3 separate regions of the Homo sapiens genome follow, and all the other regions are linked to region 1. Evidence: fine-mapped expression QTL. A gene starts in region 1. Each other region holds a variant in brackets. All regions are shown on one strand. Distances are between the middles of the regions.

Evidence for each region.
Region 2: its variant is fine-mapped to the expression of GIMAP8 in whole blood (TOPMed, PIP above 0.99). The same link has a PIP of 0.9 or more in monocytes.
Region 3: its variant is fine-mapped to the expression of GIMAP8 in unexposed skin (GTEx, PIP 0.98).

What each region holds. Positions count from the first base shown.
Region 1 is chr7:150,446,339-150,454,522 of GRCh38, reverse strand. It overlaps GIMAP8 (GTPase, IMAP family member 8), which reads right to left and starts at 3,893. Exons shown (of 5, transcript NM_175571.4): 1 at 3,348-3,893. LINC00996 (long intergenic non-protein coding RNA 996) reads right to left here. Exons shown (of 4, transcript NR_034033.1): 3 at 7,634-7,823; 4 at 6,383-7,447.
Region 2 is chr7:150,608,123-150,616,306 of GRCh38, reverse strand. It overlaps the pseudogene TRPC6P3. Among named protein-coding and RNA genes, the nearest start is that of GIMAP6, 20 kb to the left of the region's middle. The variant G/C (reference allele first, on the strand shown) is at 4,150.
Region 3 is chr7:150,469,830-150,478,013 of GRCh38, reverse strand. GIMAP8 (GTPase, IMAP family member 8) reads right to left here. Exons shown (of 5, transcript NM_175571.4): 3 at 7,140-7,185; 4 at 3,376-4,002; 5 at 1-922. The coding sequence ends at 234. Among named protein-coding and RNA genes, the nearest start is that of GIMAP8, 23 kb to the right of the region's middle. RefSeq lists an enhancer at 1-1,119. The variant G/T (reference allele first, on the strand shown) is at 4,326.

The sequences.
Region 1 (8,184 bases):
CTCCTGTCTGCCTGGAACGTTCCTACCCATTCTCCATCACTTAGCCCAAGGACTCTGAGGCTCCATGTCAAGCCTTTCCTAACTTTTCCAGATTGAACTGGTCATCAGCTCCTCTTTGGACTTTTGCAGTAATATTAACACTGCTCCCCGGTTTCCACCCTTCTCCAGCTGTCTATTGTCCACCAATAGCCACAGTTCTCCTCTCCTGTTAAAACAAGAGACAGGTAATGTCACGCTTCATTCTAAACCTCCCCCCACCCCCAGTGACTCTCCACCCATTCAAAGTAAAAGGCAAAGCCTTTATAGTGGTCACGAGACCCTACCTTGTGCCCAGCTGCTCTCTGACCTCATCTCCCACCCCCTTCCCCTCACATTGTGTGCCATAGTCACATCAGCCTGCGCTGTACTTCAAACATGCTTGCTGTTCATCTGAACTGGGGCATTGTCCCTTGCAGACATGTGCAAGACATGTGCCTGAGCACTTCCCTTAGGTCTCTATCACACTGTCCCCTTAGTACAGGAGGCCCTCTCCAGCCTCCACCCGCTATTAAAGAGCTGTCCATGCCTCTGTGCCCCACTGACACCCCCACCCCATACCTAGCACCCGCCACTGCCACCCTAAGAGCTGTCCACCCCTCTATGCCCCACGGGCACCCCCGCCCCATACCCAGCACCCACCACTGCCACCCTAAGAGTCGTGACTCCTCTGTGCCCCCCGCCCCGTACCCAACACCCACTACTGTCACCCTTCACATCTGCATTTAGTTGCTTAGTGCTTTTTAGTCTGCCACCACTACAGGTGAGTTCCATGAGAATAAGGACTTGCTCTGTTTTTCTCACCACTGTATCTACAACATAAAGAAAGTATCTGATAAATACTTGTTTCTGAGTTGATGGTTATTGACTTGAAGAACAAGCAAAATGCAGCAGATACGCCGAAGAAAGTGAAGAGTGGGAAAGCCCTTTTTCTGTGCAGCAATTTGGTGGTTCATACCTTTTCAAAAAATGGGGTCTGTGGCACTCAGGGGAGAGGCTGCACTGCAGGGAATGACCCAGGGAGGTAGTAAAGGCAGTGGCAGGGCCCACTTTCGAAAAGGGCGAGGCAAAGCCCACAAGGGCCTTGGCAGAGGCCTCTCTCTGGAATCATCTGGATGGCTGCACGGCACGGGGCAGAGCCCACCGCAGCTTCAGACACCTCAGAACCTCAGAACCGGTCCACCAGGGGAAAAATATTTCCGGTGGGTTCAAACCTAATCAGCACCGGGGATCTTCTAAGAGCATCTTTCACCCAGATACACCCTATGGAGAGAAGCTCTCACACTAATGCCCTATCTCCTCTCTCTCCTCAATTTTCTTCATAACATTGATTCTATCTGATATTATTTATATTTTATAATTATTTATTAATTTTATTTTTAAATGTCTAAATGTTCTCTGTACTACCCTTGGTACAAAGCTCCATAACAGCATGTGCTGAAACTCCAAACATGCCTGTTTTGTTCTGTGTCCCCAGGCCCTAACATTGTGCCTGGCATGTAGTATATGCCCAATACGTGGAGGTAAAGGAATGAACGATCACAGGAGAGACAGAAATGTGAAGAAAAGAAGAAAAACGGTTTTTAGAACTGAGAGGGAGGCCGGGCGCAGTGGCTCACGCCTGTAACCCCAACACTTTCAGAGGCCAAGGCAGGTAGATCCCTCGAGATCAGGAGTTTGAGACCAGCCTGGTCAACATGATGAAATCCCCGTCTTTATTAAAAGTACAAAAATTAGCCAGGCATGGTGGTGGGTGCCTGTAGTTCCACTCGCATGTATATATATATATATATATATATATATATATATATCTCACACACACACACACACACATATACACACATATATATACATATATACACATATATACATATATACATACATATATACATATATATACATATATACATACACACACACATATATATGCAAGTGAAGTGAGATGTCTCTGTAAATTAATTTAAGAAAAAAAGACACTAGTGAGAAAACAGCAAGCTGAAGGAAGCAGAGGCCTCCCACAGGTCTGAAGAAGAAAGAAATTTCTTTCCCAATTAAGCGACACAGCCTTGCATGGTTCCCCAGCAGAGTATGACCAAACCAATGAGTCTTGGCTGGACTCCTGCCTGCAGCTCCACATGATGTCAGGACCTACACACACACACCCACATACACACACGCACATGCACACTCCTACCACACATACAGCTTCCCAGCCAGTAGCACTTCACCCCAACATGTAGAAAGTGCACTTAAGGACAAAAAGGTACCCAAACTCACCCTCACTCACGCTCTGCCAGCCCACATTTCCCTCTGCTCAATTTCCCAGGCCACTCTGGAGACCCCAGCAGAGCAACTGAGAGAAAAAGAGAGCGTTCTTCCTATAATTCACTGAAGACTGTAAAGGCAGCCTCTGCCTCCTTCTCAGGAAACAGCCCAAGGCAAACGTGGACTCAGGCATCTGAGCACAGCATCCAGCCATGCGGGGATTCATCCCACATCTAATCGCAGTTCCCACTTACAGAGCAGGGTGGTTGGAGATGCCTCCAGAGCCCAGCGTGGGGAAGACCTTAGACCCAGCCCAGCAGGGCAACCATCAAGAGGAAGGGAAGAGGTTAACTGCTGAGGACCAGGTTGGCTGAAATGTAGGTGAAATCAGAAATATTGCTTTTGGTAAGGTCTTGACCCCTCCAATCCCTCCAATGCCCAGTTCACAGAATCCTAACTGTGCAAGGGGCAGGAAAGATCAGAAAAGCAGACGTGGAAAAATCAGCATCCCCCACCCCCTGCTTTGCGGGAGGAGCTCCGCTGGCTTCCTCCTGGGGGCTGCTCTGCGGCACCATCTAGCTTCATGGGGCATCTGACCGGCTGCTTCCGCCTGCTTCTTCCTCCCTTCTGCCAGTCTCAGCCCTCCTCCTCTTCAGGGCTCACACCCACTCCCCGACACGCCTTCTTTTAGGACAGCCACTCTCATAGATGTCTGGGAATATGCCTCTGTCCCCATCCTGCCGAATCTACTCCCCAGCAGGCTGGGGAGACACGCTTTGGACCAGGAGGAAAGCTTCCCAGGGCCCCTGCCATTCAACTCTGCCATTCAACCCTGCCATTCAACCCAGCCTCCTCTCCCATGGCTGAGCAGGCTGCCTTCCCGGTGCCAAGCCCATCCTCCCCCACAGCCATGCACCAGTGCACACACATCTACACACGAGTGCACATGTCACACATGCACTGCGGTCGTGTCCCATGGGGTCCCACGGCGTCCCACAGTCTCCGAGGCTCCGCAATCCACCTGGCTCTATCCCTCCATCTCTCACCTGGGTGGAAGCAGCTGCTGGTCCCCCAGGGCACAGGATGTGAGGAAGGTGAGGAGGGTGAGGGGAGAATGGCCGGAGAGCGACCCTCTTCCCAGGCCCTGGTCTTCCTGGCAGGAGGGTTTCGGGTGTTTCTGCAAAGGAAGAGATTTCTAGAAATAGCCTTCACATCCACAGAGGCATAAATGCAGTCGGAGAGGAAGTTCCCTGTGCAGGCCACAGGCTCAGAACCTCGAGAGCCGTCGGGGCTCAGGGAGGAGCCAGCATCGGGGACACACGCGCCTTCCCTGGGTGCTGAGCGCCTCGTGGGGTCACAACACAGCAGAAACTGAGGAGCCCGGCCCGTCCCGCAGCTGCAGACTGAGAGGAGGGAGGAGAAATGACAGCAGAGGCTTGGCCAGGGGCTGGGGCGCCGGGGCCGGTGCCAGGCTGAGCTTCAGAAGGGCTGCAAGAACAGGGGCTTGGATAGGGCAGGAAAAGGACGTCAAGCCAGTTCCTGTTCCTGAGAGGACAGAGATTGTGGCGCCGCTACAAGCTCTGAGCAAAGCCAGCTCCGGGCCTCTGTGTGCCCTTAAGTGGCCTTTAGGACTTCCTCTCACAAGTCCTTCCTCGCTTCCCTTCCCTTCCCTAAAACCCACAACCCGGGGAACTCCAAGCCTGACAGACCAACGCTGCTTCTCAGGGAATGAATGCTTTTCCCCAGCTTGCAAAACGTGAAATGCTAGACTTCGATGCTTTCAAATATTTCACAAAATGAAATCCCTTTTGTGAAAGAACATAGTGTCCAAACTACCTGGTCTCTACTTCATAAGGAAGTCAAACACGGAGGAAGACTTCTTAAAAAATGTTTACTAGGGTAAAAATGATGTAACATTAATAGTACCATCCTAACCATTTCTAAGTGTATAGCCCACAGTAGAAAGTACATTCACATGGTTGTGTGCCAGATCTGCAGGACTTTTCATCCTGCAGCACCCAAACTCTCCCCATTACACCCCAACTCACCTCCCCGAACCCCAGCCCGGGTAACCACCGTTCTACTTTCCGTTTCTATGATTTTTTTTTTTTTTTTGAGACAGAGTCTTGCTCTGTCGCCCAGGCTGGAGTGCAATGGTGTGATCTCGGCTCACTGCAACCTCCACCTCCCGAGTTCAAGCAATTCTCCTGCCCCAGCCTCCCGAGTAGCTGGGATTACAGGTTCCCGCCACCACACACGGCTAATATTTGTATTTTTAGTAGAAACGGGGTTTCACCATGTTGGCCAGGCTGGTCTTGAACTCCTGACCTCAAGTGATCCACCTGCCTCAGCCTCCCAAAGCGCTGGGATTACAGGTGTGAGCCACCACACCCGGCCTGTTTCTATGATTTTTGGCAACGTCAGATACTCATGTGAGTGGAGTCCCACAGTGTCTGCCCTCCTGAGACTGAGCAGAATGCCCTAGAGGTTCATCCAAGTGAGTGCGGGACCCTCTGCGCTCTGCACAGCAGGGCCCTCTTCACAGGATGCAGAGGCTAGGGCCTCGAGGGACTGGAGCTCAAGTTAGTTTTCCAAATGTCTGAGGTGGTGCTAAGCTTTCCAAAGGGACCCCGCAGAAGGAGGAGCAGTGGGGGTGGCTGAAGTAGAGGGGCATGCTTCAGATATGAAGTCTCTACAGTAGTCAAAACCACAGGCTTTGGGGAGCTGCTGTCAGCCTATCACATCCCGAGGGATCCACCCTCCCCCTGGACTGGTCTTCATGCGCCAGCCTTGAGGACTGCTCTACCTTGTTATGAACCTGAGGGAAACCCTGGTTATGCTGGGATGGCTCAAGAAGAGCTTTGGGGACACACAGGACACATCTTGATGGGGAAAGCTGACAAAGCCCTTCCCATGTCCCACTCTACCTGTCTCCTCATTGAAAGAGGATCTATTTTGGAAGAACCCCACCCTTCCTTTACAGTAGGTCAACGCACATAAAACCAACTCATTATAATGAAAAGACAAAAACCCGAAGCCAGGTACTGCAGTTCATCCCCGCTGGGGTACTAACAGAGGCAGAGGCTCAGCAAGAAACTGTTTCCCCAAAATAGAGAAGAAAAGGCTCACTCATTCTTAAATGAAATATTAAGCATCCAGGGATTGCTCTAAGTAAAACTGAAGCTGCAAATAACTCCTCAAAGATTCAGCAAGTCGATTATTTGCTGAGTTGACCATTTTGCAAAATGATCTTTCAGCAAATCAGCTCCTAGAGAATTGATTTCCGTGCAGAAGGCAGGCTGCCGGGTTCTGGTTTGGCACCGATCTGAGGCAGGATGGGGGCTCCCTGCCCCCTAGTGGCTTTGTGGCTAATGACAAGTGCAGCAAAATGCTCCCCAGCGGGCCGAGAGCCCTGACTCAGCAGGCAGGTGAAACACTGGGGAGAAGTTCTAGACTTCCAGAAATCGAATAAGCCAGGAAGACACATGTTATGCAAGCAAGGAGAAATCTACCAGGACCAAGCACCGTATTAGACACAGAGGGCACAAAGATTAGCAAGGCAAATACCTGACTCAAAGGGGCCCTAACTCAGTCTGAGGATGGGGAAGAGACTACGCTGTGGTCACGAAACGAGGTAATGTGCTGTGATAGAGATGCGTCCAGGCTGCCACGCAAGTGAGGAGGAGACGATGTAAACCCCGCAAGATGGAAAAACAACCAATTGGGGAAATAAACTTATAAACAAATCCGTAAACCCGCCATTTCCTGTGGCAGGTACTGACGGAGTGGTAGAGACGGAGTTTCACTATGTCCTGCCATGGAGAAGATTGTAAGGCACAGTGAAGGGAAGGCCGCGCGGGAAAGGTAATGCCTAAGTCTTGAAGGGCTGTAACATTTGCCTGTCAGATGACGGAGGGAGGACGCCTCAGGCAGACGGAGAATGGCAAACGCCACCGGCATCGGGGCCCTAAGACAGCCCAGCAGGTGCGAGAAAACGCAGTCAGGCTGGAGACAGAAGGACCGGTCAGAGGCTGCTGCAGCACCCAAGCTAGAAATGAGGAGAACTAACGCAGAGACAGCAGCAAGGGGAACAGATTTATTACAAATAGAAACAATAAGGCCGGGCCTGGTGGCTCATGCCTGTAATCCCAGCACTTCCTGGGAGGCCGAGGCCGGCGGCTCAACTGAGGTCAGGAATTCGAGACCACCCTGACCAACATGGTCAAACCCCGTCTCTACTAAAAATACAAAAAAATTAGCTGGGTGTGGTGGCACGTGCCTATAATCCCAGCTACTCAGGAGGCTGAGGCATGAGAATTGCTTGAACCCGGGAGGCGGAGGCTGCAGTGAGCCAAGATAGCGCCACTGCACTCCAGCCGGGGCAACACGAGTGAGACTGTCGCGGAAAAGAAAAGAAACAATAAAAGAATTTCTTAAAAAGATGAATTCACAGTTGTTAACACGATTGACCCAGTTGCCACATCAAAGGGAGTGCTATTCACTGCAGACATCTTTGTTATTTTGGAAAACATTATTATACGTTATTTCATTTCAAAGATGGAAAATGTGTGTGTTTACTACAGCTTTGGTAGATGGTAGTAAAGTGTCTTGTGACTAAATTTGTATATTTTGACAAGTTTTTGATGGAATTAAGTATCTTGTTCAAATGGAGTCCATGTCTGTTATAGTAATTCAGAAATAATATACTTATTTTAAAACGTTTAGCTTCTCCTGTAATTCCAGCTCTTTGGGAGGCCGAGTCGGGTGGATCATTTGAGGTCAGGAGTTCAAGAGCAGCCTGGCCAACATAGTGAAACTCCATCTCTACTAAAAATACAAAAATTAGCCAGGCATGGTGGCATGCACCTGTAATTCCAACTACTCGGGAGACAGCTTTTTCTGATTCTCATAAAGGGCAGTGGTCACCCAGGCTGCCTGGATGTGGAGCAGCCTGGCATCACAGTACTTTCTAGTGGCCTTTATGGAGAGAGGGCTGAGAGGCTGGTGTTTTGCTAGAGATGAGCACGTCGGCATGGGGATGCTGGGCTTGAGGCTTCTAGAGACAGAGCAGGCAGGGGCATCCAAAGGTCTTGATTGATTCCTGTGTCCCAAGGATTCTTCATGCCAATCCTCTCACTGAAAACGACTAAAAATAAAGAGGATAAAAATATTTCTAAATCTTCTCGACACCATCCAAGGGCCAATGAGATGATAAAGAATGACTTTCTTCCAGCCTGCACTCTTGCTGGAGCGCAGGCACCCTGTGCCCAGCTGCAGCCCTCAACCCCACTCTGGACCTACATTCAACACAGCTCCCCTGGGCTTTGCTTACAGGTTTCCTTTTGCTTTTCTTGTTTGTTTTGGGTTTGGTGGGGGTGGGGGTGCTGCTATTGCTGCTGCTGCTGGTGGTGGTTTATTGCCAAGTAAGACAAAGTGCCCTCTTTTTATTGCAGTGGTGACTTTTCTTCACCTTCTTAGCTGGCAGCAAAGGCCTAAAAGAGTCATGTTGCTTCTGGAAGATTCTAGAGAGATACAGGCAGTCATAAGAGGCCCACAGACAATAATCAGGAGTGGAAATAGAAAGTTCTTAAACTCTGAGTGATTGATAGTGGTAGCAAACAGCTTTGTGAAGGTAAAAACTATGAGTCAATGGTAGTTAAAAGCTGGCAAGAGACCTGATTTTGAAATGAAAAAATCCACCAAAAGAGAAGGATCACCCAAACAGAGAGGGAGGGGCAATTCCTGTAAAATTCCACAGCAACTTCATATGATCCCAGGGTTTTCCCAGCACCTCACTACTCATTCTTCTTCCTGGGATTTCCCCAAATTCTCCATATTTTTTCACCTATAAAAAGTGAGGGTCGGGTGCGGTGGCTCACCCCT
Region 2 (8,184 bases), 160 kb before region 1:
AACAATGAAACCACTTAATAATGCATTTCTCAGAAGGTATCCCTGTTAAGGGATACATGACTGTATTTTCACTGTCAGAGGAAAACTGCCTACTCAAGCCTCAGTAATGGCGGACGCCCCTCCCCCCAGCAAGTTCCATCATCCCAGGTCAACTTCAGATTGCTGGGCTGGCAGTGAGAATTTCAAGCCAGTGGCTTTTAGCCTGCTGTTCTCCAAGGGATTGGGACCTGCTGAGCGAGACCACTTGGCTCCCTGGCTTCAGCCCTCTCTAAAGGGGAGTGAACCATTCTGTCTCACTGGGGTTCCAGGTGCCACTGGGGTGTGAAAAAACACTCCTGCAGCTAGCTCTGTGTCTGCCCAAATAGTCACCCAGTTTTGTGCTGGAAACCCAGGGCCCTGGTGGTGTAGGCACACGAGGGAATCTCCTGGTCTGTGGATTGCAAAAACCATGGGAAATGTGTAGTTCTATCTGGGCCAAATAGCACAGTCCCTCACAACTTCCCTTGGCTGTGGGAGGGAGGCCCCTGGCTGCTTGGACGTCCTAGGTGAGGTGACGCTCACCCTCCATGGTGTTGGGAAAAGCTGAGTGTTGGGAGAAGCTGAGGCAGGGCTTACATGTCTGACACAATGTAAAAGAGTCTTGGAACCTGTCCAGGGTCCGGGGTCTAAAACCTCTCTTGGCCTTTGGAACACCAAGCTCTGTGCTAAAGGGTGGAAGCCTACCCTGATGCACCATAATGTAAGCGCAGGACATAAAACCCCTCATGGCCTCTGGAATGTGTCTAGACTTGCTGGCTCCTTGCTCCTTGCTCTGCCAGGATCGATTGTATCTTGAGTTAAAAGAACCTTCTCTCCATTATCTCAAGTAGCAGAGCATATGCTAAACTGTCATAGCTGTAAATCATGTGCTTAATGCAATGTTCCCTTTCAACCCCACATTCTCACCACCTGTTTCTTTGTTTGATCACCAATAAATAGTCTGGGCTTCCAGAGCTCAGGGCCTTCACAGCCTCCATTACTCACATTGGCGCCCTGGGCCCACTTTCTCTCTCAAACTGTCTTTACTCATTCCTTTGACTCCACCAGATTTTGTCACCCCCACCACCTGGTGTTGGGTCCAATCACCCCAACATTCCTGGCTGCCCAACTTGGGGTGACAAATACCCCAGTGAAGGAATGCTAGAGCATGTGAAAGTGGAGGATGCATCGTCAAAGGACACCTGAGGACCACTGAAAGAAGCTCGTCAGGAAAGCTGAGCACTTGGAAGAAACAGGGTAACAATGGGACAAAGTGAAAGCAAACATTCTGCTTACTTGAATTTCTTAAGGCACTTATTATGAAGAGGGTGAGACATGGGGTAAGACCCAGTGGAATCTGAGGCTTGTTTATTCAGAAGGCCCCATTTAGAGAAAAAGAAGACAAAGTGAGGACTTAGAAGGAGCCTGGGAAAGTAAAGTCATCTTGAAGCTTCAGTTTCACAGTTAACCTGCTTCTGCTGGAGAAAAACAGATTTAATGAGCACAGAGGCATGATATGGGACTGAATGTAAAGAAATTTGGACTCAAGGCCCCAAGGAATATTTGTTTGAGTTGTGGAATATGCTTGATTTTGGTATGTTAGTGATTTTCACAGCATTGTTCATTGCAAGATTCAGGGCGTTCTGGCATGCTTCCAAAGCCCAAAGCATCATTGATGCAAATGATACTTTGAAGGACTTGACAGAAGTAACACTGGGAGATAATGTGAAATACTACAATTTGGCCAGGAGGGAGTGGGTCCCCTCTGATCCTTGGGTGGTGTCTGAAGGTCTTTGTGCAGTTGCTGTGGTTTTGAGTTTCTCTGGGATAGCTTGTATTTTGCCAGCAAATGAAAGCTTTGGACCTCTGCAGACGTCACTTGGAGGAGCAGTCAAAGACATCTTCAGGTTCATGGTCATATTCATTATGGTGTTTGTGGCCTTTATGATTGGAATGTTCAACCTCTACTCCTACTACATTGGTGCAAAACAAAATGAAGCCTTCACAACGTTGAAGAGAGTTTTAAGACAATGTTCTGGGCTATATTTGGACTTTCTGAAGTGAAATCAGTGATCATCAACTATAACCACAAATTCATTGAAAACATTGGTTATGTTCTTTATGGAGTCTGTAATGTTACAATGGTCATTGTTTTGCTAAATATGTTAATTGCCATGATCAACAATTCGTTCCAGGAAATTGAGGATGATGCTGATGTGGGTCATAAAAAAGGTTTCCAGGAAGATGTAGAGATAAGTAAGTAGAGATAGACATAAATAGAGATATACATAAATAGAGATAGAGATAAATAGAGACAGAGATAGACATAACTAGAGATAGAGATAGAGGTAAATAGAGATAGAGATAAGTAAGTAGAGATAGAGATAAGTAGAGATAGGTAGGAAAATACAGGGACTTGCAGGAACTCACAGGAAATAACAGGTACCATAGGGACAGACAGGGACAGATACGGATAGATGAAGACCAGCAATATAAGGTCAGTACCCTAAAGAGGTATTGGTCAGTGCCCTAAAGAGGTACTGGTCAGTGAGGTACAAAAGCAAAGACTAGCAATATAAGGTTAGTGCCTTAAAGAGGTACTGGTCAGTGCCCTAAAGAGGTACAAAGGTAGAGACTAGCAAAGACAAGCAGAGATTTGCAGGGACAGACAAGAACATTCTGAATTATGGAAATTAGCTATGGCTCAAAGTCCAATCAAAATCTGAGAGGGCAAATATAAAAGGAATAGAGGGGAAGGAGGTAAGGATGAAAATGCTCTTTCTTTTCTCTCCAGCAGGACCTTTTGGATTCAAAGTCGTGCTAGCAATAGGAAATGTTACTCTTGATATAATACACACTTTATTACATGCCCTGATTGTTGCTTGTTTACCTGCATTAATTCAACCTTTGATGAAAATATAACTATCTTGATAATTAAAGCCAGGGAAGGAGTTTGATCCCTCTGTCTCTAAATAGACTATGGGAAACATCACCAAGTATTTATATTGTAACTGAGATCCTTAAAAAACTCTTATCCCGTTCCAAAAGATTTATAGTTGAAGGCCATTGGAGGCTCTACATTGTGGGTTTCTTTCTGGTTGTTGTGTGCTTGTGCTGTCTCCTTTTAGTCTGCAGATGCAGAAGCTGCCTCTGAAGAGGAAACCGCCTCTGAAGAGAAAGCTGCCATCAAGAACAAGCAATGATAGCTGTGGTGGTTTTATGAAAAAGAAAAGGGGGGTATGTTGGGAAAAGCTGAGTGTTGGGAAAAACTGAGGCAGGGCTTGCATGTCTGACATAATGTAAAAAAGTCTTGGAACCTGTCCAGGGTCCGGGGTCTGAAACCTCTCTTGGCCTTTGGAACACCAAGCTCTGTGCTAAAGGGTGGAAGGCTACCCTGATGCACCATAATCTAAGCCCAGGGGATAAAACCCCTCATGGCTTGGATAGAATCCAGGGCTCAGGGCATAAAACCCCTCATGGCCTCTGGAATGTGTCTAGATGCTGGCTCCTTGCTTCTTGCTCTCCCAGGATCGATTGTATCTTGAGTTAGAAGAACCTTCTCTCCATTATCTCAAGTAGCAGAGCATATGCTAAACCATCACAGCTGTAAATCATGTGCTTAATGCAATACTCCCTTTCAACCCCACATTCTCACCACCTGTTTCTTTGTTTGATCACCAATAAATAGTCTGGGCTTCCAGAGCTTGGGACCTTCGCAGCCTCCATACTCACGTTGGACCCCTGGGCCCACTTTCTCTCTCAAACGTCTTTTCTCATTCCTTTGACTCTGCCAGACTTCGTCACCCCCATGACCTGGTGTTGGGTCCAATCACCCCAACACATGAGCTGCTCCCACTTCCTAGATGAATAGGATACCTCAGTTGGAAATGCAGAAATCACTGGTCTTCTGCATTGGTCTTGCTGGGAGCTGCAGACCAGAGCTGTTCCTATTCGGCCATCTTGTCAGATCTCCCTGGAGGTCTTTATCTTAAGTGAAATAAGCCAAGCACAAGAAGAACAATATCACATGTGGGAGTTAAAATATCATATGTGGGAGTTGAAATATCATATGTGGGAGTTGAAAGATTCGATCACATGGAAGTAGAAAAGAGTGAAAAGATAGCAGAGACT[G/C]AGAAAGTAGAGGGTGGATGAAGAGAATTGTGTTAAAGGGGACAAACATAAAATTAGATAGAAGTAATAAGTTCAGTGTTTGATGGCAGAGTAGGGTGACTATAGTTAAACAAAAATATACTGTATTTGTGTGATGGACACCCTAAATACCCTTCACTGTGCATTATGTACATGTAACAAAAATTCACATGTTCCCTATAAATTTGTACAAATAAAAAACTGTGAAAGAAGATTCTGCTTATAGTGATAAAGATGTTTCTATGTTAACAAATTAGAAATTATTGCCTCCAATTTAAAGGATCTTAAGAAACAAATATAAATCTTTCATCAGACAAGTCCCACCTTCTCCATTAATGTTTTTTATTATACTTTAAGTTTTAGGGTACATGTGCACAACGTGCAGGTTTGTTACATATGTATACATGTGTCACGTTGGTGTGCTGCACCCATTAACTCGTCATTTAGCATTAGGTATATCTCCTAATGCTATCCCTCCCCTCTCCCCCCACCCCACAACAGGCCCCAGTGTGTGATGTTCCCCTTCCTGTGTCCATGTGTTCTCATTGTTCAATTCCCATCTATGAGTGAGAACATGCGGTGTTTGGTTTTTTGTCCTTGTGATAGTTTGCTGAGAATGATGGTTTCCAGTTTCATCCATGTCCCTACAAAGGGCATGAACTCATCATTTTTTATGGCTGCATAGTATTCCATGGAGTATATGTGCCACATTTTCTTAATCAGTCTATCATTGTTGGACATTTGAGTTGGTTCCAAAGTCTTTGCTATTGTGAATAGTGCCACAATAAACATATGTGTGCATGTGTCTTTATAGCAGCATGATGTCTTTATAGCAGCAGGATTATCCAATATCCCTGATGAACATCGATGCAAAAATCCTCAATAAAATACTGGCAAACCGAATCCAGCAGCACATCAAAAAGCTTATCCACCATGATCAAGTGGGCTTCATCCCTGGGATGCAAGGCTGGTTCAACATACACAAATCATAAAATGTAATCCAGCATATAAACAGAACCAACGACCTAAACCACATGATTACCTCAATAGATGCAGAAAAGGCCTTTGATAAAATTCAAAAACCCTTCTTGCTAAAAACTCTCAATAAATTAAGTATTGATGGGACATATCTCAAAATAATAAGAGCTATCTATGACAAACCCACAGCCAATATCATACTGAATGGGCATTGATTTCTTTAGTGGATTAAATTTGACTCCTGGGAATCTTTGCTCAGAGGAATTTTTCAATTCTTGGCTATTATTCTCCTTATAGTTATTGTGTTTACCTCCTGGTGCATTACATTCTATCAAGGGTTTTTATTCTTTCCAGTGGCCACTCACATGTCAAAAGATTGCCCTTAGGATCAGCCAACTCAAGGAAACGAATATGGACCAAGTAATTGTTCACAGTAGCTTTGTAACTCTGAACCCCAGCATAACGATTAATGATGACAACAACATCTTCCTGACTTTTCTTTCCAAGGACTACATCAACATTGGTAACTGAGAGTAATGCTATGCCATTTGGTCACACTGTCAGCTTGCTGAAGAAATAACTAAAAAGGGAAAATTCTTAAAGCACAATTAAAATGGAGACCGGGCCTAAACATTGCTGAGCAAACAAAACCAATGGAAAATTAAAAATAGCCTTAACATTGCTTAAACTGCAAACAGAAGCAAAATTTTAACTTGGGTCATTTCTGGTAAATGCTTATGTTGAACAGAAATGAAACTTAGTCTCAGCCAATCATAAGCAGCTGACTAATATATGTTCATGAGTTTAGGGATTTCCAACAACATAAACCAAAAAAGATGATATTATAGCTGCAAACAATCAAATACTGTATTTATTTTGCATCCACATTCATCCTACAAATCTTTGCCTCTGATTCTTTGTCATTGAAACACTAACCCTCTTTTGGTTTTGTGTTTCCCAATTCATGAATTGCTTGTTACTCAAATAAACACTATATATCTGATTGTGCCTCAGTTTACCATTTTAAATAATCTATCTGACCTCTTTGTGGAAACATTTCCTTCTCAAAAAAGATACCTAATTGGTGCCAGGTATACCCAGGACAAAGTAGTTTAGATCTTGTATTTTAACTACTTGCTGTCTGTCTCCTACAGTTGTGGCTGATGAAGAACACTTCCTTGTTCATCATTGGATTCCAACGTCCTGGAGTGCGTTAAGCACTCACTAAATGCTTCTCACCCATTTAGTAGCTGATTTTGATTTTGTATCCTGAGACTTTGCTGAAGTTGCCTATCAGCTTAAGGAGATTTTGGGCTGAGACGATGGGGTTTTCTAGATATACAATCATGTCATCTGCAAACAGGGACAATTTGACTTCCTCTTTTCCTAATTGAATACCCTTTATTTTCTTCTCCTGCCTGATTGCCCTGGCCAGAACTTCCAACATTATGTTGAATAGGAGTGGTGAGAGAGGGCATCCCTGTCTTGTGCCAGTTTTCAAAGGGAATGCTTCCAGTTTGCCCACTCAGTATGATGTTGGCTGTGGGTTTGTCATAGATAGCTCTTATTATTTTGAGATACATCCTATCAATACCTAATTTATTGAGAGTTTTTAGGATGAAGCATTGTTGAATTTTGTCAAAGGCCTTTTCTGCATCTATTGAGATAATCATGTGGTTTTTGTCTTTGGTTCTGTTTATATGCTGGATTATGTTTATAGATTTTCATATGCTGAACCAGCCTTGCATCCCAGGGATGAAGCCCAATTGATCATGGTGGATAAGCTTTTTGATGTGCTGCTGGATTCGGTTTGCCAGTATTTTATTGAGGATTTTTGCATCAATGTTCATCAAGGATATTGGCCTAAAATTCCCTTTTTTTGTTGTGTCTCTGCCAGGCTTTGGTATCAGGATGATGCTGGCCTCATAAAATGAGTTAGGGAGGATTCCCTCTTTTTCTATTGATTGGAATAGTTTCAGAAGGAATGGTACCAGCTCCTTCTTTTACCTCTGGTAGAATTCCGCTGTGAATCCATCCGGTCCTGGACTTTTTTTGGTTGGTAAATTATTAATTATTGCCTCAATTTCAGAGCCTGTTATTGGTCTATTGAGAGATTCAACTTCTTCCTGGTTTAGTCTTGGGAGGGTGTATGTGTCGAGGAATTTATCCATTTCTTCTAGATTTTCTAGTTTATTTGCGTAGAGGTGTTTATAGTATTCTCTGATGGTAGTTTGTATTTCTGTGGGATCGGTGGTGATATCCCCTTTATCATTTTTTATTGCATCTATTTGATTCTTCTCTCTTTTCTTCTTTATTAGTCTTGCTAGCGGTCTATCAATTTTCTTGATCTTTTCAAAAAACCAGCTCCTGGATTCCTTGATTTTGCTGAAAGGTTTTTTGTGTCTCTATTTCCTTCATTTCTGCCCTGATCTTAGTTATTTCTTGCCTTCTGCTAGCTTTTGAATGTGTTTGCTCTTGCTTCTCTAGTTCTTTTAATTGTGGTGTTAAGGTGTCAATTTTAGATCTTTCCTGCTTTCTCTTGTGGGCATTTAGTGCTATAAATTTCCCTCTACACAGTGCTTTGAATGTGTCCCAGAGATTCTGGTATATTGTGTCTTTGTTCTCATTGGTTTCAAAGAACAACTTTATTTCTGCCCTCATTTCGTTATTTACCCAGTAGTCATTCAGGAGCAGGTTGTTCAGTTTCCATGTATTTGAGCAGTTTTGAGTGAGATTCTTAATCCTGAGTTCTAGTTTGATTGTACTGTGGTCTGAGAGACAGTTTGTTATAATTTCTGTTCTTTTACATTTGCTGAGGAGGGCTTTACTTCCAACTATGTGGTCAATTTTGGAATAGGTGTGGTGTGGTGCTGAAAAGAATGTATATTCTGTTGATTTGGGATGGAGAGTTCTGTAGATGTCTATTAGGTCCACTTGGTGCAGAACTGAGTTCAATTCCTGGATATCCTTGTTAACTTTCTGTCTCATTGATCTGTCTAGTGTTGACAGTGGGGTGTTGAAGTCTCCAATTATTATTGT
Region 3 (8,184 bases), 23 kb before region 1:
TCCAGATTTCCCCACCTTGTATCTTCTTTCTCCTTTATAATACCCTACTATTCGCCCCCACCTGCAATTTATTTATCTACAAATAGCTGATACATCACAAGGCGGGATGCATTTGCCTCTCAGGCCCTCAAAGCCATGAACCCGCTTCCCTTCCCACAGGTTGTACCATGCCCCGCCCCTCCCCCCAACCTGAGGGTGTCTCTAATTGAAGAGACCCCAGGCACTTCGGCTACCTATTGTAAAATACCTATTAAATTTTTAAGGAGTTTTTCGGCTTGGGACATTTCCTGGACATTTTTAATTAGTTTGCTGACGTTCTCCTGTGTATGGGGATACCCGGACCACCCACTTTCTTTTCTCAGATCATTGACCTTTGTTAAAAGAGCTTTCACCTGGGTTTCCTGGGCCTGGCCTGTTTCTTTGTTGTTAAAAGCACAAACTCGCCGCCCACACTTTTTAAAAATGCGCCGAAGGGCTTTGTTATCTGAGTTCTTCATGAAGTCTTCCAAATTCCCCGCCCCTAGGTCTTCCTTCCGGGTGAACAGCATAATCGCGTATTTCGTAAAGTCTGCTCCAAAGATGGCCTCCAGTTTCGCCACAGCTGTTTTGTCCTCTTCAGTGAATCGTCCCAGCTGGAACACCAGGACAAAAAATGTGTCCCCTTTTTCACAGCAGGACAAACAGCGCTTGACCTCCTCTTCTAACCGGGATGGGTCCTTTTCGACATCCAGCATCTGGTTGAAGGAAGGAGTGTCCACAACCACCACCTCCTGTCCGTCCCATGTCCTCCTGCCACTCTGGCTGGTCTTGGTGACTGGCTGGGCCCGGAGCCGAGAGGTGAAGACGAGGCTCCCCAGGATAGAGTTCCCGGTCGCACTCTTCCCAGTCCCGCTTCTCCCCACAAGGACAATGTTCAGGGTTTCTGTCAAAGGAAAGTGGGAAAGATTCGTGACCATGGGCTGATCTGAAATTGGATTTTAAAGTTATCCCATGAAGCAAGATTACATCACTAAAGTAAACAGCATGTTCAAACAGCATCAAGACCTCCTTCTCACCCAAGCAGGGGGATCTCCAAACACGGGAATGACTTGGCCCAGTTCACTCAGTCTGTGGACTCATGGCAGGACTTGGACTACATACAGTCTCCGTCCAGGGTTCATCCACCAATGTGGCACTGTTCCTATCACTGAATCGGCTCTGCTCCCTTTTTGCAGCACCTTCCAGACAGACTCCCTGGCACCTGTGAGTGTCCCCTGGCCTTCTTACTCTCTGCTCCCCTCAGCTGGGTTCCGTCTACACATCTCATCCCTTTGTCTTCTGTTCCTGTTACAACTACATCTTCTCACTCCCAACTACTGCTAACTATAGCAACATCTCCTTACAGTATTTAAAGAATTATTCTGTAAAATTGACTTTCATGAAAAAGAAACTCTACATATCACTGATAGATTACCAGTTTCCTTAGTTAGGACATGTAAAAATTCATTTCTCATTAAAACCACATTGAACTTAATTGCCTTTCACTGATGAGTCAGAAGAAACCGCATGGTTATAATAATGAATATCCACTAACACTGTTGGGTGTGTGGTGTCCATGATGGAGAAAGAGAATGAATTTCCCTATAAATGGAATTTACAGACACATAGAGACCTTACAATATGCGTTCTTTGGAGATCGTTCTTATGCTTTTGCACTTGCACTGTGACAGTCCAGTGCTCATTCAAGTCTCTTCGTAGTTCTCTTCCATTATGAATTTCATATCAAATAGCTAATATCTACTTCAATGCAAAGGAGGAAGAAAGCACATCCCATGCTCTTCCTTCAAGGGGAAATTATTAACCTGTTTATGCTGAAACTTCAACTTCATAGTTATGCCCAGCAGATGAACAATAGCTTAATCTTCCAACACTCCCATATTTGTCATATATTTCAGTCCCTACTTCTGTACCTACAGAGGGTGTGTTTCTCATGTACCTCTGAAATCCGGCCCCACTCCCCATCCCATATTCTCTAATTCAGTGTTCTTAATGTTCAACGCCTTAATCTTCAATGTTCTTGGAAGATGTCCTTTAGAGCTGTGAACCCCCATCTCCACCAAGATTATTCTTTTTTGTCCCCTAACAAGTGACATGCTTAGTCCTACCTCTTTGCTTCAAATTGCTGGTGTACTCTCTGGAATATCTTCCAGCTTTCTGCTCAGCCATTTAATCCCTACCCATTCTCTAAAACCTGTTTCAAATTGGGCTTTCTACACAAAGCCTCTCCTGACTTTCCCATGTATCTATACTTCTAAAGGAGGGTTCAATAAGAAAATATGCTCCTTTGGGTTTTATCTTCTTCCTGGGTGAGGATGTTTGAAGCAGAAAAAAAAACGGGATGAGTAAGAATGGGAAGGACCTCAGCATAGGTCAACTGAACGTGTAGCACTAAGTGGATGAGGAGCCCTTCTTAAGTAGTAAAGAGAGCAGTGTGCCAAGCTCTGGGCAACAGTACACTGTGGGGAAACAAAGGGTTGGAAAGCATCAGCTCCTTTCTTCAAGACACTCACACTATCCAGTTGAAGAGATAGTAAAGATCATGAAAAAATTAAAGACCGGTTCAAGAGAATGTGCATGGAAAAGCTATAACTTCAGTACAATTTGAGAAGCAAAGAAAGAGAAAAGAGTTAGTCCATAGAACAGACCTATCCTTCCTTTATTTTTCTTCCAGTTTCAACTTCTTTTTTGTTTCATTTCAACTTTTATTTTAGGTACAGGTACATATACACCATAGAATAATAGGCAGCCATAAAAAAGAATGAAATCCTGTCTTTTGCAGTAACATAGATAGAGCTGGAGGCTGCCATCCTAAGCAGACTAACACAGGAACAGGAGACCTGTCCTTTTTATCTTCTCTATGCCTTTTAGAAAATGTGGCACATATACACCATGGAATACTATGCAGCCATAAAAAATGATGAGTTCATGTCCTTTGAAGGGACATGGATGAAATTGGAAATCATCATTCTCAGTAAACTATCGCAAGAACAAAAAACCAAACACCGCATATTCTCACTCATAGGTGGGAATTGAACAATAAGATCACATGGACACAGGAAGGGGAATATCACACTCTGGGGACTGTTGTGGGGTGGGGGGAGTGGGGAGGGATAGCATTGGGAGATATACCTAATGCTAGATGACGAGTTAGTGGGTGCAGCGCACCAGCATGGCACATGTATACATATGTAACTAACCTGCACAATGTGCACATGTACCCTAAAACTTAAAGTATAATAAAAAAAAAGAAAAAAAAGAAAATAAAAAGTTCTTATATATTTTATACCTATTTTTAAATGATATATGTAAAAATATATATCCTATTCACAGTTTTACCTTTTTCTCTGAAAACACAATGCTTGTTCCCATTCTGATGCACCATGCTCTCAATTTTTTCCAGGAGCTCGTCCGCCTGCCTTTGCTCTTCTTCTCCTGTTGCCCGGTAGTTGAAGGCACTATATCTGTTTTTACACTTCTGGATGAGACCATAGAGAGCTTTATTGCTGTTTCTTAAGAACGTATCTAGATCCTGATCCCCTAAATCTTCTTTCCTGGTAAGAAGTATGATCATGTACTCAAAGAATTTTTCTCCAAAATTGTTTTGGATGGTGCTCAGCACTGCCTCATCATTCTTAGTGTAAAAGCCCAGTGGTGTCACCAGCAGGAAGGCATGGGGGCCTGTACAGATGTGTTTTCTAACTTCTGAGTCAATGTTCTTTAAAGATGAGATGTCCGGAGCATCAATGATCGAAACTTTCTTTTTTCTCCAGCTTCTGCTCTCAGACAAGAAGCTCTGGGTTACTGACTGCTCACTAAATCCGGTCTGAAAGGCCTGCCTCCCCAGAATGCTGTTTCCTGCTGCACTTTTTCCAGCACCGCGTTTCCCCACAAGGAGGACTGTCAGTTCTGATGTCCCCGGATTCTGCTCGGGTCCTGTGGACTGCAGCTGCCTTTCCCTTGGGCCTGTGGGACAAATGGACAGGTTCAGAGTCTCTTCCTGCAGTTGAATATGGATGTGGGCAGGTTTTATGATTTCTCATCCCTGCAAACTTGTATAGAGAATGGCAACAACACGGTAAACCAGTAGAACTCTACTCTCAGCCAGAAGCTCTCCATCAAGGTGAAAGCCACAAACAGGGGCAGGAGTGAACTAAGAGATATTCATGGAGCTTATGATTCCCCAGGAACACGAACATGCCAACTTTGGCCTTCGTTGGTCTAGGTCCTCAGGGTTCCCCTCATTTTGTTATCAAAGGTAAGTACTGGGGCCTACCAAAGGTAAGTAC[G/T]TACCAAAGGTAAGCCCAGGGGCTAAGGCAGGAGCAGGGAGAATCCGATTTTCAAATGCCCCTTGGTGGTATAAAATCAAATACACTCAGCAATTAAAAAAAAAGTGAACTAGCGATATGCAGTATAGATGGATCTCAAAAAAACACGCTAAGTAAAAGAAGCAGGACACAAAAACTGCATACTAGATGATTCTACCATATGAAGTTGAAGAACAGACCAAATTAATCTATGTTGATAGAAATCTGGATAGTGTTTCTCTTTGGCGAGGGGCAGCAAGAATCTGTAAGATGATGGAAATGCTCTATATCTTTATCTAGATGGGGATCCCATATGTATAGATATAGAAAAAGGCATCAAGCTGTTTGCTTAAGATTTGTGCATTTTACTCTGTGTAAATCGTACCTCAATAAATTGCTGTAAAAACCTGCAAACCTGCACCCTACAACTATCTCTCCACACATCCCCTGGCTGAGGCAGCATCAACACCAGACCTATGAACTGAGCAAAAGGGAGAGTCTGCAACTGCAGGGAGCTTTCTCTGAGGCTGAGTCATCAACAGCCTTCGTGGGAAGGGTCTGAGCAGCAAGTTGGGAAGGTGGGATGGACACAGCATCAAAGGCCCTTGCTGTATTGCCTTGGAAAACTTACCGCTTTGCGAATCTGTTTCCATGTTGGTAGAATGGGAATCTAATGCCCACGTTGAGGTTGAAAAGACTAAAGGAAACAGCACCTGTAAAGCCCTTAGGACCTGACTAGCACGGAAGTGTGCATGGAAGGCTTCACAGTTAAGGAAGAACTTGAGTCAGGCCTGGAAGTGCCCCTCCCTCCCTCACACTCCCCCCTACTCTCCTTTACAGACTTCAGGACTTTTGCCCATATGACAGCACTTTCTTTGCCTCCTGCCCTATCTCCTGCTGGCTACTCAGGTTCCTATGCAAATATAACTTCTTCAAGAGAACTTCACCTAAATTGCTCACCGCAAAACTATACAAATCAGCTGCCATGTGTATTTCCTCTATTCTTACCAAAATAATAATTTTATATTTATTTCGAATATGGACTCTCTTCAATTTAGAGAGACCATACAGTGCAGTGGTTAAAAGTAGGAGTGAGAAGGGATAATAAATAGCCCTTGAGAGCCAGGAGCTGGTCTGGCCTCCACAGCAAGGCCATGGCACCCTCCTGTCTCTCATCCACAGTATTACAGAAAATCAGACACGAGTCTTCCACAACCACAACCACTCTGCAATCGTATCTGAGCACACAAAAACAACAGCATTGCCCGAACATCCCCTGCACTGGCTAAATAGATGACAGCTGCCTCCTGATGGCTTTAGCCTCGTTCCACCCTTGTCACCTTGGACAGAAGAATTATTCAAACACTTCATTGTGGAACTACCCCCCACTTCCTAAGCGCATCCATCCTGGAGCAAAGTCCCACTTCCTGGAACCTTCCTCAGAATCACCTAACATGAGCCCACATCCTATAAAAAGTCCTTCCCTGCCCCCTGTTTCTGACAGCCCTGTGACTCCCCATGGTGTGCTGGGCCCTCACAGCCACAGGTCAATAAACGCACTTTTGTTCAGTCACACGTGTGTTCCTGGGGTCTCGGCCAAAGGGCATTGCCAGAATTTTGAAACCCTTCTGCCTGAGTACACGTATTTCTGGCTGAGTGCACTCAGCTGTGAAATGAGGATGAGGCTCACAACATCTTCTTTACAAGATTGTTACAAGAATTGAACTGGTGTATTTTAAGAGGATTATATATGAATATGCTATGAAGATTGAATTACATATTTATGAAAGTTATTTCCCAGGACATAATGTCAGCTGCAATTTTTTTTTTTTTTGAGACAGGGTCTTGCTCTGTTGCCCAGACTGGGGTAAAGTGGCATGATCTCAGCTCACTGCAATCTTGCGCTCCCAGATTCAAGTGATTCTCATGTCTTAGCCTCCCGAGTAGCTGAGACGACAGGCACGCACTACCATGCCTGGCTAATTTTTGTATTTTTAGTAGAGACAGGGTTTTGCCATGTTGGCCAAGCTGGTCTTGAACTCCTGGCATCAAGTGATCCACCCACCTCGGCCTCCCAAAGTGCTGGGATTACAGGCATGAGCCACTGCACCCGGCCTCAGCTATAATTATTAGCAATACTATTAAAATTATGATTTTATTATTTGGAAGATTTCCATGAGGAAAAGGATCTTGTCTATCTTATTCACGACTGGATACTCAGAGCTTGCACAGGGCTGACCCAGAAATAACCTGCAAATCCATCAGTAAAGGCATGGTTGCATTTGTTTTGTGTGTCCACATTGTGAAACAAACTGCATCTACTATACGGAAGGAGGTAGATCTATACATATTGACTTATGCAGATGTGCAGGATCTATCATTACTGGCAATCATCACCTGAATACTGCACCCCATCAGAGAATTCTCCAAGTTGGTGTTGTCCATGAAGGAGTGATTTCTGCTTTCCTAAGAGGAGTCAAAACTTGGGCAGGGCCGGATCCAAGGCCAGAAAGAAGAGTCTGAGTTAGGAAAGAAGACACAAGAGGCAAGCCCAGCTCTGTAACACTTCAGAAAAGTCCAAGGACACCCTCGCTGGGTCCAGGAACTTTGCTGGTGCTATACCTACTCACAAGTGTTAGGAGTTTCCTAGGGGATAGCTTGTGGGAACCAACCTCAGCTAGGTCCCCAGGGTGAATTTTCTGGTTTATATGGATAATGTTTCCGCTTCACTTTGGCTGCAGAATGCATTCAAAAGAATACAAGTGTGAGCTTAATGTTTCTTAAAGATCAACTTACCCTGTGGCTTGTCTCCCTCTTGAGATGCAGCTTCATTCACACAATCCTAGAAAATAAAGGAACAAAATAGTGCACACAGATCTAAAACCTCATCTTCCACAAACTGAAAAAAAAAAAAAAAAAAAAAAGGAAATTGAAGTATTAATTCAGAATGATCTGCTGAGTCAGATGTGGTCAAATCAAGGCCCTGGTCATGGTCTTTGTTGGTCTTTGTGGACCTGTCCACAATGGCAGTGGATCCTTAGATCCCCTGATGCTGCTAGGACTGGTTCTCGGAGAAGGTGATGTTTCCAACGTCTCCTTCCCTCACTGCTCCCAGTATGGAAAGGAAGCTTATTCTAACCTGAGGTTAATTGTCCAATATAATTTGGAATCCCGTTCCCCACCCCCCCAAGTCTGGCAAATGGAGACAACAGGATAGAGAACCAAACACCTAACTGACATCCCCTTCTCCTGCCTGGGGAATCCTGATACTTAGTTCCAAAATATTTATTGTTGTGGAATCAAGAAAGGAGGTGAAAAAACAGTATGCAATCTTGATGAACCTGCTAGTCTTAGAAACTTCCTAGACTTCATTTTAACCTTATCTTTGTTAAATCTTCATGCCAGCCAAGGAAATCTTCCCTCTGCTTTCTTGCCTGGCTTTGCCCAATATCATTGACACCCTCAACCATCCCTCTCCCTGCATCCTCTCCATTTAGCTGTCATTATCAGATTTCTTTAACCTTACATAGCCCAGTTCAAATTATTTAGTGTTCTCTAAATTCAAAAGATTGTTATGAGGTAAATGTCCATAATATAAAAATTAATGATCTTTGCATTCCCACTCCACCAGAAAAGTAACAGTTGTTAACTGGTATATATACTTCTATCTTTTTCTATGTTCATACAAATACATACAAGCATACATGAACATATGGAGACTTATTATTTGTTCTACAATCTGCTTAATAATGCATTCTGTACATCTGTAGAAGTCAATATAGACAGAACTACATCATTCTTTAAGTAGATAGAATTTATTCCATAGTACGGACATGCGTAA